3 linked regions of the Homo sapiens genome follow. The protein of the gene in region 1 interacts with the protein of each later gene in a pairwise test. Each region holds a gene or a part of one and is shown in the gene's direction. Other genes may lie near its edges.

Region 1 (3,722 bases):
TCTGACAGTTAGAGCCGATATCACTGGAAGATATTCAAATCGTCTCTATGCTTACGAACCTGCAGATACAGCTCTGTGTAAGTGTGACCTTCAATTCGGATGTTGCCCAAGAGTTGAACACCTCTATTGCTGTAGTGATGGGACTAGAGGCTGCATGGTGAGGTGAGAGAGAGCTAGGCTTAGGGACGCCTCGGACTCAGTTTGACCCTAACTAGCCTTGCATCTTCAGGCAAATCACACTCTTTCCATCTCAGGTTTGTTTGTTTTTAATCTCAATTGAAGATGAATTATTTAGATTAGGTATCTTTTTCTCTAGGAGGATTCTATGACCACATTACCTGATTTTCAGGTTTTCTGTTAGGTACACGAGCACACACTCCTTCTATCACAGAACTGAGTGTAATAATTGTAATAATCTGCATGTCTTAATTTTTTAAATAACAAAAGTGAAAGAATGTGCAGTCCAGCTTAAAATTAAATTCAGGTTCAGTTTAAAGATCAGTTTCAAAGATGATCCAAATGATTGCCAAGAAAATTACCTTCCCTATGGTTGCCATCAATGGAAGAGAGACAGAGAGAGAGAGAGACACTGACTTAAGGCAGATGAGGTACCTCAATGCAACGCTGTAGCTAGCTGTGACATCTGATTAGTCCTCTGGGAAGAAAAGTGGGTTTTATCCTAGGAACCAACTCTGATCAATTAGTAGTGGCTGCCTAGAACTGCACTGTCCAATATGTTAACCATTTGCCACATGTTGCTACTTAAGTTAAAGTTAGAAATTCATTCCTTCAGTCACACTAGCCATATTCCAAGTGCTCAATGCCCGGACACTGAACATTTCCATCATCACAGAAATTTCTATTGGCCAGTGCTGACTTAGAACGTCATGTTGGGAAGAGAAGTGAGGCCGTGTCTAGGAAGCAGGAGAGATCATCATGGTCCATTAGCAATGTTTCCAGTGTGTGCTGGACCAGGGGAAGCACATTCCAAGTACTGTCAGCCATTACTGAGATAATACCATACATTTTAATAAGACTAAGCTCTTAAAAGGCACGTGTCCTACACAAGTAATATCACAATCCCTTGTAGAACAGGCACTTAATAATTAAGATTTGTAGGAAGAGTGAATAAGCGGCTGTTCAATGCCTATCGAGTGGACATCTTATTTTTAGTAGATCACATACCTCATTTTGATGAATTGCTGTTGAAGAAACAGTGACCCAGAGTTTGGGCTCTGGAACAGTAGCTCCATTACTTGTTAGCTGTGTGACCTTGAGCAAGCTACTCAGCCTCTCTCTGCCTGTTTCATTATGTATATATAAAGTTCTAATCGTGTTTGTATGAGGATTAAAGAATTCATCTGCATAAAGCACTTGGTTTGCTATTATTTATATTTCCCCTACTTCTAAAACAATTTACACACACCTACTAATAGACATTTCTTTTAAACATGATTTAAATTTACTTCTAAATGAGCCAAAATTATCTTCTGCTGCTAGAGCTTATAAAAGGATTCTTTTGGAAGTGAGGGTTGGAGATGAAGGATCTGGGAAGGAATGACTACACTAGAAAACTAGATTGTCACAAAAGCCATTTCATATAATTTTTTTAAATTACAATAAGATTACCAACTATTCACCTCATGATAAAAAGCATCCTATCAGGCTGGGCACAGTGGCTCACGCCTGTAATCCCAGCACTTTGGGAGGCCGAGGTGTGTGGATCACTTGAGCTCAGGAGTTCGAGACCAGCCTGGCCAGCATACCAAAACCCCATCTCTCCCAAAAATACAAAAATTAGCTGGGCATGGTGGAGCACACCTCTAATCCCAGCTACTCAGGAGGCTAAGGCTGAAGAATCACTTGAACCCAGGAGGCAGAGGTTGCACTGAGTGGAGATTGCACCACTGCATGCCAGCCTGAGTGGGAGTGAGACCTTGTCTCAAAAAAAAAAGCATCCCATTAAATAATGAATTGAGCATCCAAGTTTGGGGTTTATTATATCGATATAACGCACGATGGTGTCTTGACTCTCCTGCTTTTATCCCCCATTAGTGCTTGACAACATGAAGAAAGCTCTCAAGTTGCTGAAGACTGAATTGTAAAGAAAAAAAATCTCCAAGCCCTTCTGTCTGTCAGGCCTTGAGACTTGAAACCAGAAGAAGTGTGAGAAGACTGGCTAGTGTGGAAGCATAGTGAACACACTGATTAGGTTATGGTTTAATGTTACAACAACTATTTTTTAAGAAAAACAAGTTTTAGAAATTTGGTTTCAAGTGTACATGTGTGAAAACAATATTGTATACTACCATAGTGAGCCATGATTTTCTAAAAAAAAAAATAAATGTTTTGGGGGTGTTCTGTTTTCTCCAACTTGGTCTTTCACAGTGGTTCGTTTACCAAATAGGATTAAACACACACAAAATGCTCAAGGAAGGGACAAGACAAAACCAAAACTAGTTCAAATGATGAAGACCAAAGACCAAGTTATCATCTCACCACACCACAGGTTCTCACTAGATGACTGTAAGTAGACACGAGCTTAATCAACAGAAGTATCAAGCCATGTGCTTTAGCATAAAAGAATATTTAGAAAAACATCCCAAGAAAATCACATCACTACCTAGAGTCAACTCTGGCCAGGAACTCTAAGGTACACACTTTCATTTAGTAATTAAATTTTAGTCAGATTTTGCCCAACCTAATGCTCTCAGGGAAAGCCTCTGGCAAGTAGCTTTCTCCTTCAGAGGTCTAATTTAGTAGAAAGGTCATCCAAAGAACATCTGCACTCCTGAACACACCCTGAAGAAATCCTGGGAATTGACCTTGTAATCGATTTGTCTGTCAAGGTCCTAAAGTACTGGAGTGAAATAAATTCAGCCAACATGTGACTAATTGGAAGAAGAGCAAAGGGTGGTGACGTGTTGATGAGGCAGATGGAGATCAGAGGTTACTAGGGTTTAGGAAACGTGAAAGGCTGTGGCATCAGGGTAGGGGAGCATTCTGCCTAACAGAAATTAGAATTGTGTGTTAATGTCTTCACTCTATACTTAATCTCACATTCATTAATATATGGAATTCCTCTACTGCCCAGCCCCTCCTGATTTCTTTGGCCCCTGGACTATGGTGCTGTATATAATGCTTTGCAGTATCTGTTGCTTGTCTTGATTAACTTTTTTGGATAAAACCTTTTTTGAACAGATCTTTTGGCATTATTAATTTTTCCAGGGATATATTTTCAATCTTTTCTATCTCTCCTAGTGACTACTATCATTAGTAGGTGTTGAGCATATACTGCTGATTTAATGACATACAAATCTTCAGCAAAAATATCACAGGTTAATCAGCTCCCTTCTCACAAGTAGATAACTTACATGTGCTGAAAAAGGTAAAACATTCCATTTAAAAAGATCTCTGAGGGATAACAAGAGGAAAAAGAGGTTTCCCTTCCATAAACAAATATTTTAAATGACAAGTTCTAAGTGATTCAAGTTTCTCCTATAGTATAGCAAAATATTTTTTCATTGGGCGGACGTGAAATAAGGTTAACTTCTTAAAATGTATTGAATGGCAAAATATCTTAACACATACAAATACTTTTTAAATATAAATAAATATTTAGGAAATCAAATGTTACAGCTGTAAGGAAAATAAGTCCCCCTTTTAAAAGCATTGAAGAAACACAAAGCATGAGTCATTAATTGACTTTGTCCCATCAGTCT
Region 2 (7,033 bases), on another chromosome or scaffold:
CGTGCCCAGCCAACACATGTAAATCTTAACCTGATGCTTGTACATTAGAAATTGCTTAATAAGTGTTTTTATTATTGATGTTGCATGACAGCTGTGAAAATAGAGCTGATAAATAGGTTATAGGAGAAAGAGTGAATGAGATTGCCCAGGGAAAACATAGACTAAGAAAGGCCTGGACAAAATATTGCTTAAAGGTGTTCTAGAAGAGAAAAATGAGAGAGGTAAACAAATCGGGGGGTGAGTGGAAAAGAGATAATATCGTTATGTTGCTAGTTAACTGTTTCCCAAACATGTGGTTAACTTTCATACCTACTTGCCTTTCCTCCTGCTTTTCTCTTGGTCCTCTCTCTGGCTGGCTGAGCCCCATTCTTTGACAATTCAGCTTTTATATGTTGTTATAGCTTTTCCTCATTCCTTTATGCAGAATTTCTTATTTATCCATGTCCTCATAGCACCTAATGTACCTGTAGACAGTGTTTCTAAATGGAGTTGCAGACCTCTTTGAGAATAAATATGAAATGTTTGAATCCTCTTCCTAGAAAAATCTACATTTTACTCTTTTGCAAATAATTTCAGAGAAAGCCTGGATTCCTAGAGGCCTGTTCCATAGACCCCAGATTAAGAACCCCTGGCTTTTGTTTGTTTGTTTTACTTTAAAAAATTACTTGGCTAGGCACAGTGGCTCATACCTGTAATTCTGGTACTTTGGGAGGCTGAGATGGGAGGATTGCTTGAGCTTGGGAGGTCAGGGTTGCAGTGAGCCATGATTGAGCCACTGCGCTCTAGCGTGCGAGACAGAACGAGACTCTGTCTCAAAACAAAAATCCAGGGTTCTCGGTAGTTAAAAAAAGAAAAAAGAATTATTTCAACTTTATTCATATTTCTTTGGCTGGGGTGTAGGGGGCTGGGGGCGGGGGGAGGTTAGACATTGTCCAGTAAATGCCCAAGGCTTTAAGCTTCCAGTTTTCATATTTGCAAAAACTTGAAACTAATTCCATTAAAGTGACAAAAATGTAAATAATCTCTCTCTTTTTGCCATACTGTATAATTAAAAATATGTAGCAGTTAAAAGTCTTACCAAAATTGGCCGGTGCACTGGCTCACACCTGTAATTCTAGCACTTTGGGAGACTGAAGTGGATTGACAAAAGGATTGCTTGAGGCCAGGAGTTTCCGACCAGCCTGGGCAACATGGCGAGACCCTGTCCCTACAAAAAAAAATTTTTTTTAATTACTTGGGCATGGTGGTGCACCACTGTAGTCCTAGCTACTTGGGAGGCTGAAACAGGAGGCTCGCTTGAGCTCAAAGGATAGTCCTAGCTACTCAGGAGGCTGCGGTGAGCTATGATCATGCTCCAGCCTGAGCAACAGTGAGATTCTGTCTCTTAAAAAAAAAAAAAAAAAAAAAAGCCCAGGCACGGTGGCTCACACCTATAATCCCAGCACTTTGGGAGGCTGGGACAGGTAGATCACCTGAGGTCAGGAGTTCGAGACCAACCTGGCCAACATGAAATTACCAAAAATTGTCTCAGAAGTTTGACAAAATTGTTCATTTGTGTCATAAAATTTTGTCAAAATTTTTTCTCATAAGCTTGACAAAATGGACAATTTCAAAGAGAGTAGGAGGTATTGGAGGCCAGCTGATTAGCAGTGGGAAATCATATGGGCTAGTACCAAGTTTTTGCCTTATTATAAGTATAGAGAAGTGACAGTTCCTACATGCAGTTTGAAATAATGGTGACAGAATGCAGGGTTTGGAATCCGAGATAGTGCCTAAATTTTGAGCTCAGGAAGAAATGGGGAAAGGAAAAAGGGAAACAGTGGTAAGACAGGAGGATGCTGAATTAGGTTAGAGTTGACGATAGAATAACCAATTTAAAATGTCTTATAGATAAAATCTAGAATGAAGCTTTGGTAAGAAGTCTGAGCTACGTACATAAGATTATCAGCAACATATATGTTAAGGTGGAGCCATTTAAAGAAAGAACAGAAGGGACCTATGATTTACTGATTGTTGAAAATCAAAATAAAGGAGGCAGAGAAAATAAAGATTGTGAGTCAGCAGGACTTTTGTCTTATTTTCAAGTGGATTTATTGATTACTTTTCTTCTTACAGCCAAGTGCAAGATCTGTGAATGGGCGTTTGAAAGTGAGCCACTATTTCTCCAGCATATGAAGGATACTCATAAGCCTGGAGAGATGCCTTATGTTTGCCAGGTATTGCCTTTTTCTCCAGGGAGTTTTAGCAGTTTTGCCCTCAGGAAGAATACAAAGAATTTACTAATGAATATTGTTGACCACCTACTGCATACACTCAGTTTAGGAACTCTGAGTAGGTACAGAAGAAATAGTAAACACAGTTTATCTTCAGGGTTTCCATGCAGGAGAAAAACATAAAAGAACATGTCCACAAGTAGACTAGCCGGGAACATGTGCATATTCTAAGGGAGTGTCTGTCTCCTGAACGTGCCCTTTGGAAATTGACAGAAAAGGCTTTATTTTTCTTAGTTAGAGAACATGGATTATTCTTAGACTTTCTGTCCCTTCCTATTTTTAAAGTAATAGCTAAACCTATCACAAACATAGCCCAGCATTACAAAGTCAGGAAAATAATTTGATTTCTATGCATTTGAGAAAACTTTTTTTTTTTAATTTAAAAATTTTTGTTGCTACCTTTTTTTTTAAGGCCTCTCAGTTGTTCACTTCATTCTTAGCCTTATTTTCCCTCCTATGTGACTCAGGTGTGTCAATATCGCTCCTCACTCTACTCTGAGGTAGATGTCCATTTTCGGATGATCCATGAGGATACCCGGCATCTGCTCTGCCCTTATTGCCTGAAGGTCTTCAAAAATGGCAATGCATTCCAACAGCATTACATGAGGCACCAGGTACTAGGCACCAAGCAATTCCCATATTCTCTTGTTTTTTTTTTTTTTAAACATGGATGCTGGGGCCAGGGCTGAGCTAGGCAAATAATTTGGGCAGAGATTATAATATGCATATGTTTGCAGAAATTTATTGAATTCACTTAATGTGCCATGTACTAGTCTAGATGCTAGAGATTTAGTAGTAAACAAGGCAAACAATACAATAAAACATGAAGAGTACTGTGTTGGGGAAATTATAGGATATAGAAAATCACATAGCTATTCTGGGTGCCTAGTAAGGCTTCCAGAAAGAAGTGTTGTTCAATACCTGAGGGATGAATAAGAATGAGCCAGATGAAATAAGACGAAGAACAGTGTGCCCAAGGCACAAAGCAAAATTGTGGAGGTTCAAGAAATTGAGAGAGATTCAGTGTAGGGTGTAAGAGACAGAGGGGTTGGAAGTTAGGCAGGGACAGATCATGGAGGATCTTTTAAGCCATGAAAAGAATTCACTGGGAAGCCACTAAAGGGGTTTTAAGCCCTGGAGTGATGTGTTCAGCTTTAGTTAAGGCTTTATACTGCCTGCACTGCAGAGAATGGATTAAAGGAGATTGAGACTACAGTTAGGGAAACTAGCTAGAAGGCCTTTTTCAGTAGTTTAGGTGAGAGATGATAGTGGCTATTGGCTTTTGAAATAAAAAGAGGGTAGAGTTGAGAGATATTCAGAAGATTTGTGATATTTATGATGTAGAGATGGATTAGGTGAAGGTAGCAATGCAGTAGTTAAGAATAGTGCCTAAGATTCTGTCTTGGGCAGTTGGGTGAATGAGGGAACTATTTGCTGAAATAGAAACAATAGAGAAAGTATATTTGTGAGGGGGGAGATCATGAGCTTGGATATTGTAAGTTAGCAGTATCTGTGGATGTCAAGTGTAGCTGTTGGATAATAGATCTCAAGCCTGTGAGAGAACTCTGGGTTGTAGAAAAGATTTAGGAATCAGCGTTATATAAATCCTATAGATTTTAAACTTAAATACCATGGGCCCCCCAACCCTGTTGAGAATAAGAGAAGGCTTAGGATATTTGAAGTCCCTTATCTATAAAGCAACCACCATAGTACTAGGAGGAAAACCAGAAGAGTCTTAACCTTAAGGAAACTGGGGAGAAGAAAGTGTTTTAAAGAAAAGGGTGTGATCAAAATGTCATATGTTACAGGAAGGTGTCAAGCAACATAGAGACTTAGAAACAGGCCTTTAATTTAGCAACATTGATGAGAGCCATTTTGTTGGTTGGTAGGGTGGAAGTCACATTTCAGCAGAACAAATGAATGAGAGGTAAGGAAATGAAGACGATGTATTTAAAGAAGTTTATTTATAAAAAGGGAGGACCCAGGGTAGGTAAATCCAGAGGAAGAAGTGGCAAAGAAGAGTTTTTTATTGCTTTTATTTTCCTTATAAGATGAAAAGCTATGACTTCGTTTTAAAATACTACAAGAAGAGAGCCACTAGAGGAGAGTGAAAGGTATATAGTATATAAGAGAGGATTCAAAATGGAGAATAAGATGAGTGCATGTGTGCTTAATAGTCACATACATATGCACACAAACATATGTACCCTATTACACTCATAGTCTCCTTTGCACAGTAGTGACTGCTGATTGTCTACCACAACTGTATTTCCAAATAGGGGCATGGAAATTGTCTCTTAGCCTAAGCTTACAGAGCTTTGTTATCCTACTAAAGAAAATCATAGACATGGGTTCTATTTTTGAAGGACTTCAATACTAGGCAGACTGAATCCTCAAAGTGGTCTCACCAGGAGACATATCTGTATATACTGATGTGTTAAGTGAGAAAACAGCAAGGTATAGACAAGTGCTATCATTTGTGTTAAAAGGAGAAAAAGAAGAGGGCTGAGGTGGGAGGATCACTTGAGCCCAGGAGGTGGAGTCCAGCCTGGGCAACATGGTGAGACAACATCTCTACAAAAAGGAAAGGGAAAAAAGTAAGGGCCAGGCACAGTGATGCACGCCTGTAATCCCAACACTTTGGGAGGCCAAGGCAGGTAGATCACTTGAACCCAGGAGTTGAAGACCAGCCTGGGCAACATGGTGACACCCCGTCTCTACAAAAAAATACAAAAAGTAGCCGGGCGTGGTGGCACGTGCCTGTAGTCCCAGCTACTTGGGACGTGCAGTGAGCTATGAACATGCCACTGCACTCCAGCCTGGGCTACAGAGAGAGACCCTGTCTCAAAAAAAGGGGGCGAGGCAGGTAATGATTGGATATGAATGTATTTGTGATACAGTTATATGTGTAGACTGCCCACGAAAGCATACTCAGGAAACTGGTAATAAGTTGTTTGTATGGAAGGGGACTGAGTGTTGGAGTTGAAAGCAAAGTTGGAAGAGTATAGAAAAAAAAGTATGACTTTAGTTTACTATGTACATTGTCCTTTTTTAAAAAAAGAAGAATGAAGAATGTCCAGAAGAATGTCCAGTTGTCAGCAGTGTAAAGATATAATACAAATAAAGGTTACATCACTCATTCAAATTGTTAAAACAAGTCAGGAAAGGATGATTTGAGAACTTAGTCATCCTGGACTAGAATCCATCTTTCTTTGATATCATGGGAGGTGATGATTCTCAATGGTAGGTTTTGTGGTCATGTTGCATATTTCTTTCTTACTCTCTTAAATTATCAACAGAAAGGTGGGAAGAATGATATGGTTGACATTGATCTGCTTTCTCCTCAAAAAAGAAAATTTATTAGGAACCTTTAAGGGATTTTGTCTCTTTTTTTCCCTCCCCCACTTCAGAAGAGAAATGTTTATCACTGCAACAAATGCCGGCTGCAGTTTCTCTTTGCCAAGGACAAAATTGAACACAAGCTTCAACACCATAAAACCTTCCGTAAACCCAAGCAGCTGGAGGGCTTGAAACCAGGCACCAAGGTAAAGAGTTTGCCAGTGTCTTTTATAGGCCCAGGGAGGGAGGAATAGAGATTTTCAGTATTCTGAAATTTAGTGTGGGTGATGTCTCATTGTTACTTCCCTTGGTTCTCAGGTGACAATCCGGGCTTCCCGAGGGCAGCCACGAACTGTTCCTGTATCCTCTAATGATACACCTCCCAGCGCCTTGCAGGAGGCAGCACCGCTGACCTCCTCAATGGACCCTCTGCCTGTCTTCCTTTATCCCCCTGTCCAGCGCAGCATCCAGAAGAGAGCTGTTAGGAAAATGTCAGCGCCTTCTTCTAAGTGCTGGGCGGGTGGGGACTGGGTGGCCAGGATTATTCCTGATACACAGTGCAATCTGGTAGCTTTTTAGCAGGGTTTGTTGTCTGAAAATCCTACATTTTGGGGACCCATGAGGCAGTAATGAGAATTCTTTTTTTTTTTCCCCCACAGGAGTGTCATGGGCCGGCAGACATGCCTGGAGTGCAGCTTCGAGATCCCAGACTTCCCTAATCATTTCCCTACTTACGTACACTGCTCTCTGTGTCGCTATAGCACCTGCTGTTCTCGAGCTTATGCCAACCACATGATCAAGTAAGTTGGTTTTTAACCAGTGTTTTAGCTTGAGAGTTCAGATTCTTTTTTTCTTCTTCTTCTTCTTCTTTTTTTTTTTTTTTTTTTGAAGACAGGGTCTCACTCTGTCCCCTAGGCTGGAGTGCAATAGCATGATCTTGGCTCACTGCAACCTCTGCCTCCTGGGTTCAAGTGATTCTCCTGTCTCAGCCTCCCAAGTAGCTGGGATTATAGGTGTGCACCACCATGCCTGGCTGATTTTTTTGTATTTTTAGTAGAGACGGGGTTTCACCTTGTTGGCCAGGCTGGTCTCAAACTCCTGAGCTCAGGTGATCCACCTGCCTCGGCCTCCCTAAAGTGCTGGGATTACAGACATGAGCCACTGCGCCCGGCCCCAGCCAGATTCTTGAGCACTCATTTCATTTTCTCCCCTGCTTCTAATATGTTTCCTCCTTCAACTCTTAGAGCTATTTGTTCTTCTCTCCTAGCAGAGTGAGAGGCTCTGTTTTTTCGGTTTTGATGGTCTGTGCTCTAATTTCATAGGGCCTTGCTATTCAAGTACCAGTAGTATTAGGTGGGAGCTTGTTAGAAATGCTGACTCTCAGCCCCGCCCTAGGCCTACTGAACCAGAATGTGAATTTT
Region 3 (7,388 bases), on another chromosome or scaffold:
CGCCAAACTCGGCCTTCACTGCTTTGCGCAGACCCAGCTCGTCGGCCCCTCGGAGTAGGCTGTGAAGAAGGCGGAGGAGGTGGGCTCACAGGGAGGCCCCGGCCCACCATCCTGGAGCTGAGGATGGTGCACCTGGCAGCCTTTGGGACAAACGCAGGGCGGCTGGATAGCATGGTTGGCACTTGGTAGAGCGGGGAGTCGGGTGGCAGGCTCAGCGAGAGGCCAGGGACAGGGGACTCGCCTCTCATACGTGGCGGTGACAAAGAAGGCGTAGGCACGCGTGTGGCGGTGGTGGCGGACTTGCACGATGAGCTCGGGAATGCCCACGCGGATGTGGTTCAGCAGCCATAGCAGCGTGTGGTCATCGGTCGTGTCTGCCAAGGGGCACAGGGACCGATGGCTCCTGCCACGAGGGGGCCCAAGGCCTCCTACGTATTCCCGTTCTGGGAAGCCGAGCTCAGGAGAGCCGCATCTGGGCACTGGGCGGGCGGGCGGGCGGGCTTGGGTACCTGGGAAGGTCATCAGCACGTCGCAGTTCTCTGTAGGCACCGTCTTCATCCACGCCTTGTGGGACACCAGGTAGCGACCAGCCTGCAGGAGCCGCTTTCCGAAAAGCTTATCTAGGGGGCGGCGTAGCAGGCCCGGGTCAGGCCACTCTGGGATCCGGACCCGGCCTCCAGTCTTGGCTCCTCCTGCCCCCGCCAGGGCTCCTCACCACTCCACCTGGCATTCAAGGCCCCGGGAGCTCTGGGCTTGGCTTATTTTCCTCCCTCCACGTCCTTGTACCAGCCAGGCCTTCCTCCAGAAATGCCCTTCCCCCCAGATCCTCCCTTACAAATCTTACTCATTCTTGAGGCCCAGCTCCGCCTCCAAAACCACAATCGATGGGGCGCTCACTAGCAGCCCTGAGCGCTTCACCACATTATGACAGCGCCGTCCTTGCAGCAGCCCCAGGGACTAGGTGCGGTTCTTACCCCCATTTCACAGGTGAGGAAACTGAGGCCCAGAGCGTTTAAGTCACGCGCCCAAGGTCACACAGTCAAGCTGGGATTTGAACCCAGGACCGTATGATTCTGTATTCTTCGCGGAGAGGCTCTCTCAAGCACATCCCTGGCCCGCCGCGATCCCGCAGCCCGGGGGTGGCAGGGCGCAGCCCAAGCCTGGGGCTCTCGGAGGGGCGTGTCCGCGTCTCCGCGCCGGGACCCCAGCCCGAAGCACCGTCCCAGCCCCGCCCGCCGGGCCGCAGCCGCAGTGCCGGGAGGAGCCGGCCCCTCGTCCAGACACCACGCCAGGTTACGTTTGACCCTGATCCTCCTCCCCGTGTAGTTGACGCGGGCTCCCCAGGCACCTGCAACCCTGTCTGGTCCAGCCGCCGCACACATACCCAGAACTCCGGACGCCGGGGCTGCAGGCTCGCCCTCCGGCGGGGGCCTCTTGCCACGCTCGCCCTCCAGGGACGTGCCCCCGGCGCCGGAGGCGGCCTCGGCCATGGCGAGGACAGGTCAGGTCAGGGGCTACGGACGGCCCGGGCGACGGGGAGCCGCGGGCTCATGGGGCCGGTGCAGCCGCGGAGCGCGCGGGAGGAGGAGACAAAGGCCGCGCCCGCCCGCGCCGGCCTCGGTCCTCGCTCGCCCGAGCGCTGCTTCTCGTCCCCGCCCGAGCCGAACCTCGATTCTCCTTCCCGGCCCGATGCACGTCACTCTAGGGTTCTCAGCTGAGTTCGCCCGCCTAGTTCTTTGGTTCGCGTCTCCGCCCGTGTTGTTTTCTGGGTTTCCTTCTCGCCCGCCTACCTCGCTCCCTGCTGCTGGTCCCCGCCCGCACTGATGGTGCATTCTCCAACTTGTCCCCACCCATGCTTTCTTCTGGTCCCCGCCTCGGAGCCTCAGTTTCCCCATCTGCAAACTCCGGACCCTGGAGACGCTGTTTGGAATGTGAGATGGGCGTAAGTTGACTAAGGGAGGACGTGGGAGGGGCGGGCCGGTTGGGGAAGATTCCTGGTGACAATAACTTCAACCACCCCAGTAGGGCTGTGATACATAATTACAGCAAGCCCTGCTTAGGAACTTTGCACGCACCATTTGGCTGCCTAGAACACTCCTCATGCACTCTTCGTCCGGTTAACACCGACTCCCTTCAGGATGTAACCTCGGAGAGGATCCCATAGAGTTGTCAAGTTTAGCAAATAAAAATACAGTCCGTCTAGTTAAATGTAAATTTCAGATAAAAGAATAAATGTTAGCTGGGCGGGGCGCACCTGTAATCCCAGCTACTTGGGAGGCTGAGGCAGGAGAATCGCTTGTGCTCAGGAGGTCAAGGCTGCAGTGAGCTGAGATCACACCCACTGCACTGCATCCTGGGCGACAGAACGAGACCCTGTCTCAAATACATATATATACATACATACATAAATGTTTCTATGTCCTATGTCTACATGGGACATACTAGTACTAAAAAATTATTCATTGTTTATTTGAAATTCACATTTAGCTGGGCGACCTGGGTTTTACCTGGCATTTGGCCAACCCCTGACTATTCTGAGTAGCTCAGTCTGTTAGACTGAAAGCCCAGCGAGGGTAGGAACGAGGGGCCAGGTCTGGTTCTCAATGCGAGCACACAGTAGGCGCTTGCTGTACGCTTGTTACAGATGTAACAACTAGCTTGTTACAGATGTAATAACTAGCTTGTTACAGATGTAACAACTAGAGAATGGCAGATGAAATATAAATATGTCATCATTTGTTCCTATTTTACAACTTAAAATATTAAAGCCTCGGCCGGGCGCAGTGGCTCACGCCTGTAATCCCAGCATTTTGGGAGGCCAAGGCGGGTAGATCACCTGAGGCAAGGAGTTCGAGACCAGCCTGACCAACATGGCCAAACCCTGTCTCTATTAAAAATACAAAAAATTAGCCAGGCATGGTGGCGCACGCCTGTAGTCCCAGCTACTTGGGAGTCTGAGGCAGGAGAATCGCTTGAACCTGGGAGGCGGAGGTTGCAGTGAGTCTAGATCGCGCCACTGAACTCCAGCCTGGGCGACAGAGCGAGACCCCGTCTCAAAAAAAAAAAAAAAAAAAAAAAAAAGCTTGGGCAACGTAGTGAGATCCCCGTCTCCACCAAAAAAACGAAAACAAAACAAACAAACAAAAACAACAAACAAAAAGAAACACCGAAAAGTTAGACTGGCATGGTGGCTCGCGCCTGTGGTTCCAGCTACTCAGGAGGCTGAGGCGGGCGGATCCCTTGAGCCCAAAAGTTGGAGGTTGCAAGAGCCGTGATCGCGCCACTGCACTCCAGCCTGGGCGACAGAGTGAGACCCTGTCTCAAAAATAAAATAAAATAAAATAATAAAGTAAATAAAAATATTGAGCAGGGCGAGGTAAGGGGGTATTAGAACTCTATTCTGTCAGACAGATTTTTCTTAACACGCAAGTGCGCCGCCCGCCCGCTCTGATCCAGAACCAGAGAATCCGCCATGCGAAGGCGCTCCCGGAGACCCCGCCCAGCCAGTGCCTGGAATTCCACCATCAGCGCTTTATTCCGAGTTTCAGTGCTGTCCTGGGTTAACCTGAAAGCAATCTCCGAGGCTCCCCTTTCTGGCTTTCGGGGAGCCAGAGACTGACCGGACACTTGGCTCTGCAGGTGCAGACCTGGACCAGAGAGACAGAGAGCCAAGGAAGTCCACAGTGGAGAGAGGGCTGTGCTGGGGGTTCCAGGAAGACTTCCTGGAGGAGGGGATCTTGGAGCTAGGCCTTGAAGACGAGTTTGTCAAATGAGGAAGGGCATCCGAAGCCGAGGGAACGGCAGAAGGGAACGCTGGGGAGGGGAGAGAATCTGGAGAGTTCCGGAAAAAGCAAGTAGGACTCTTTCCAGAAGTTCGGGCAAGATTTTCCCTGGATCAGGGCGTGGGTTCTCCAGTACTCGTCCCTCCCGGTCACCGAGATGCTCTGAGTTTCCGGTCTGAACCTGAACGTAAAGAGGTGTAGTCCCTCCTTTCTTGAACGGGAAAACTGAACGCACATAGGTCCTTGCCACGCCTAAGGCTGCGGAGTGAGCAGATGGAAAATGCGGGACTCAAAACCTCCCCTCGCTGTAATTTGCACTGCCCTGTGCCAAACTCTGTCCTTTCTTCCATTCCTTATTCCTATTGTCAGCCTCGCTGCGCTAGGACCCTAAAAATTTGGTCTCATGTTGCCCGGGGAACAACATTTCGCTACACCTACCTCCATACCGCCTCCCGCTCCCGCTCTCCCTTGCACCAGCCAATGGAAGCGAGTATCTTCAGACGGTGGGCAGGACGTATCCTAAGATACCCAATGGTGGTCGAGAATAGTTGAGCACTTTACTAGTCAAGCCGCGGAGTGGGCGGGGCCCCCTGCCCAGACTTGAAGCCACACAGGCAGGTCGGGCAGGCGGGTCGCAGGTTGTAAATCCATGTGGCGGGGGCTTTGGACCCTGGCGGCCCAAGCGGCACGTGGGCCTCGCAGGTGGGGCTACAGGGGAAGGGGTGCGACAGCTTGGGGTGCTGCTTGGACCCCAGACCCACTCCCTGGGTTTTAGGGGCCCAATTCCCTGCGGCAGAGCAATCATTCGCGTTCTTCCGTGCCTCAATCGTTCATGACCCTTGCGGCAGAGCCCATATCTGGGTCTCCTTCTGGCCTCACAGTCCCTAATCCGGTCACCCTTCGGCCTTCAGAACATCCAATTTGTGCATCCCCCAGCCGCAGAACCCCCCCACCTGGAGCATCTCGCGATCATCGAGCCCTCGGTCTACTTGACACTGAGGCTGAGCCTCCCAGGTGCGCTGATTCGCCTCCCCTCCGGTTCCAGATTGTGCACGCGCCGGAGCAGCGGCGCACCAGCCCCCGGCTCCGGCGCCACCATCTTCGCGCTAAGCTCTGGCCAAGGCCGCTGCGGCATCGCAGTGATCCGGACCAGCGGCCCCGCCAGCGGCCACGCCCTCCGAATTCTCACAGCACCCCGAGACCTGCCCCTTGCTCGCCACGCCAGCCTGCGCCTGCTCAGCGATCCCCGCTCCGGGGAGCCTCTGGACCGCGCACTGGTGCTCTGGTTCCCAGGTGAGGGTCCCCAGGTTCCGAGCCTCCTGTAGGTCCCATGACTCAGTTTCCCCCTTCCAAGGGTTTGCACTGGCTGTGCTGTCCTCCTGTCACCTGTCTGTCACATTAGGTCCCCAGAGTTTCACCGGTGAGGACTGCGTGGAGTTCCACGTGCATGGAGGCCCGGCAGTGGTGAGCGGCGTCCTGCAGGCCTTGGGTGAGTTGCAGCGTTGGGTGAGATGCTTGGTCCTCCCAATGGGCCTGGGTGGGGACCAGGGGGTGTCAGACTGGGACCTTCCTGCAGGCAGCGTGCCAGGGCTTCGACCGGCGGAGGCAGGCGAGTTCACCAGACGGGCGTTCGCCAATGGGAAGCTGAACCTGACCGAAGTGGAGGGGCTGGCGGACCTTATCCACGCGGAAACAGAGGCGCAGCGGCGGCAGGCCCTCAGGCAGCTGGACGGAGAGCTGGGCCACCTCTGCCGTGGCTGGGCCGAGACCCTCACCAAAGCAAGTCCCCCATTTGTCCATTCTCTCCCTCAGAGACCCCATCTGTGCAACCCCTGCATGAGACCCCCTCTCAATCCCGCATTCATTCCCTGCGTGAAAGCTTCCGGCCTATGAGCCGCCATTCTGGCCCCTGAAGTCGGGCTGGACAAATTGGGTGTGGGAAGGTGGGTTTCTGGGTGCACACACCACCTCTGCTCTCCCTGCCCCGCCAGGCTCTGGCCCACGTGGAGGCCTATATCGATTTCGGCGAGGATGACAACCTGGAGGAGGGGGTCCTGGAGCAAGGTGGGTCTACCTGGTGGTGGGGGAGGAAGACACCTCATATCAGCCCTCAAAGGCTCCCCTCACTGTCTCTCTCTGCCTGCCTTCTCTCACCCACAGCCGACATCGAAGTACGGGCACTGCAGGTGGCCCTGGGTGCACATCTACGAGATGCCAGGCGCGGGCAGAGGCTCCGCTCAGGGGTGCACGTAGTGGTCACTGGACCCCCCAATGCGGGCAAGAGCAGCCTAGTGAACCTGCTCAGTGAGTAGGCGGCGGGAAGGGGGCGGGGCCTAGTGCCAGGGGCGGGGCCAAGAGCTGGGTTATTGAGTTAGTTGTTCAGGTCTAAAGCTCCCTCCAGACATGGGGTAGAACCTGGGGGAGGAGCTCCCTTGTCTCCACCCTCTCCTCTTCTTCTGACCCTCCCCCAGGTCGGAAGCCTGTGTCCATCGTGTCCCCGGAGCCAGGGACCACCCGTGACGTGCTGGAGACCCCAGTCGACCTGGCCGGATTTCCTGTGCTGCTGAGCGACACGGCTGGGTTGCGGGAGGGCGTGGGGCCCGTGGAGCAGGAGGGCGTGCGGCGCGCCCGGGAGAGGTGGGCGGACAGGGTGGTGATGGGAGGGGAACGCGGGGCCCTTTCTCTGCCTTTTCTCCCTGTTGCGTTTATTTTTCATTCTTCCTGAATCAGAGAACCTGCTAAGCCCTATCAAGCATGGATCTCAGGGATTTGGTTCTTTTTTTTTTTTTTTTTTTTTACTCCGAGACCGAGTCTTGCTCTGTCGCCCAGGCTGGAGTGCAGTGGCGGTATCTCAGCTCACTGCAAGCTCTGTCTTCCGGGTTCAAGCAAGTCTCCTGCCTCAGCCTCCCAAGTAGCTGGGATTACAGGCGGGAGCGACCACGCCGAACTATTTTTTTTTTTTTTTTGTATTTTTAGTAGAGATGAGGTTTCACTATGTTGGCCAGGTTGGTCTCTAACTCCTGAGCCTCGGCCTCCCAAAGTGTTGTGAGCCCACCGCACCTGGCCTGGTGTTTTGTTTTTGTTTTTGAGACGGAGTTTCGCTCTTGTTGCCCAGGCTGGAGTGTGCAGTGGTACAATCTCGGCTCACTGCAACCTCCGCCTCTCGGGTTCAAGTGATTCTTCTGCCTGGGCCTCCCGAGTAGCTGGGATTAGAGGCGCCCACCACAATGCCAGGCTAATTTTTTGTATTTTTAGTAGAGATGGGGGTTTCACCATGTTGGCCAGGCTGGTCTCGAACTCCTGATCTCAGGTGACCCGCCTGCCTCGGCCTCCCAAAGTGCTGGGATTACAGGCGTTAGCCACTGTGCCCGGCCAGTGATTTAGTTCTGATTAAGTCCTGCCCCCGGCCCTCCGGACATGTTTCTCATCCCTAAGCCCTCCGCCCAGCCCTCACGTTCTGCCCCGCCCTCTCGTGCTCTGTCCCGCCCTGGCACTCCGCTCTGCCCCTTGCGGTCTATCCCATCCCCTGTGCTCTGTCCACCCCCTACATTCTGCCCCACCCCTGGTGCTCTCTACCCCTTACCCTGTGGTGTGTCTGGTCCTTCT

Evidence for each region. Proteins that work in one complex are often made in the same cells at the same time.
Region 2: the proteins of AGR2 (region 1) and POGZ interact in binary tests that used the Homo sapiens proteins (3 or more experiments, as listed by UniProt).
Region 3: the proteins of AGR2 (region 1) and GTPBP3 interact in binary tests that used the Homo sapiens proteins (3 or more experiments, as listed by UniProt).

The regions. Positions count from the first base shown.
Region 1 is NC_000007.14:16,791,291-16,795,012, reverse strand, and holds the end of AGR2 (anterior gradient protein 2 homolog precursor), read left to right. Parts: coding exon 1-77; intron 78-2,055; coding exon 2,056-2,105; 3' UTR 2,106-3,202; downstream 3,203-3,722. UniProt on the Homo sapiens protein: Required for MUC2 post-transcriptional synthesis and secretion. May play a role in the production of mucus by intestinal cells. Proto-oncogene that may play a role in cell migration, cell differentiation and cell growth. Promotes cell adhesion.
Region 2 is NC_000001.11:151,407,479-151,414,511, reverse strand, and holds part of POGZ (pogo transposable element with ZNF domain), read left to right. Parts: intron 1-2,115; coding exon 2,116-2,216; intron 2,217-2,740; coding exon 2,741-2,887; intron 2,888-5,683; coding exon 5,684-5,818; intron 5,819-5,930; coding exon 5,931-6,103; intron 6,104-6,271; coding exon 6,272-6,412; intron 6,413-7,033. UniProt on the Homo sapiens protein: Plays a role in mitotic cell cycle progression and is involved in kinetochore assembly and mitotic sister chromatid cohesion.
Region 3 is NC_000019.10:17,333,181-17,340,568, forward strand, and holds the start of GTPBP3 (5-taurinomethyluridine-[tRNA] synthase subunit GTPB3, mitochondrial), read left to right. Parts: upstream 1-4,372; 5' UTR 4,373-4,431; coding exon 4,432-4,484; intron 4,485-4,827; coding exon 4,828-5,075; intron 5,076-5,184; coding exon 5,185-5,271; intron 5,272-5,358; coding exon 5,359-5,561; intron 5,562-5,773; coding exon 5,774-5,846; coding exon of another isoform or gene 5,847-5,942; coding exon 5,943-6,086; intron 6,087-6,253; coding exon 6,254-6,419; intron 6,420-7,388. Other genes in the region: ANO8 (anoctamin-8), read right to left, coding at 1-59, 242-374, 510-620, 1,385-1,490. UniProt on the Homo sapiens protein: GTPase component of the GTPBP3-MTO1 complex that catalyzes the 5-taurinomethyluridine (taum(5)U) modification at the 34th wobble position (U34) of mitochondrial tRNAs (mt-tRNAs), which plays a role in mt-tRNA decoding and mitochondrial translation.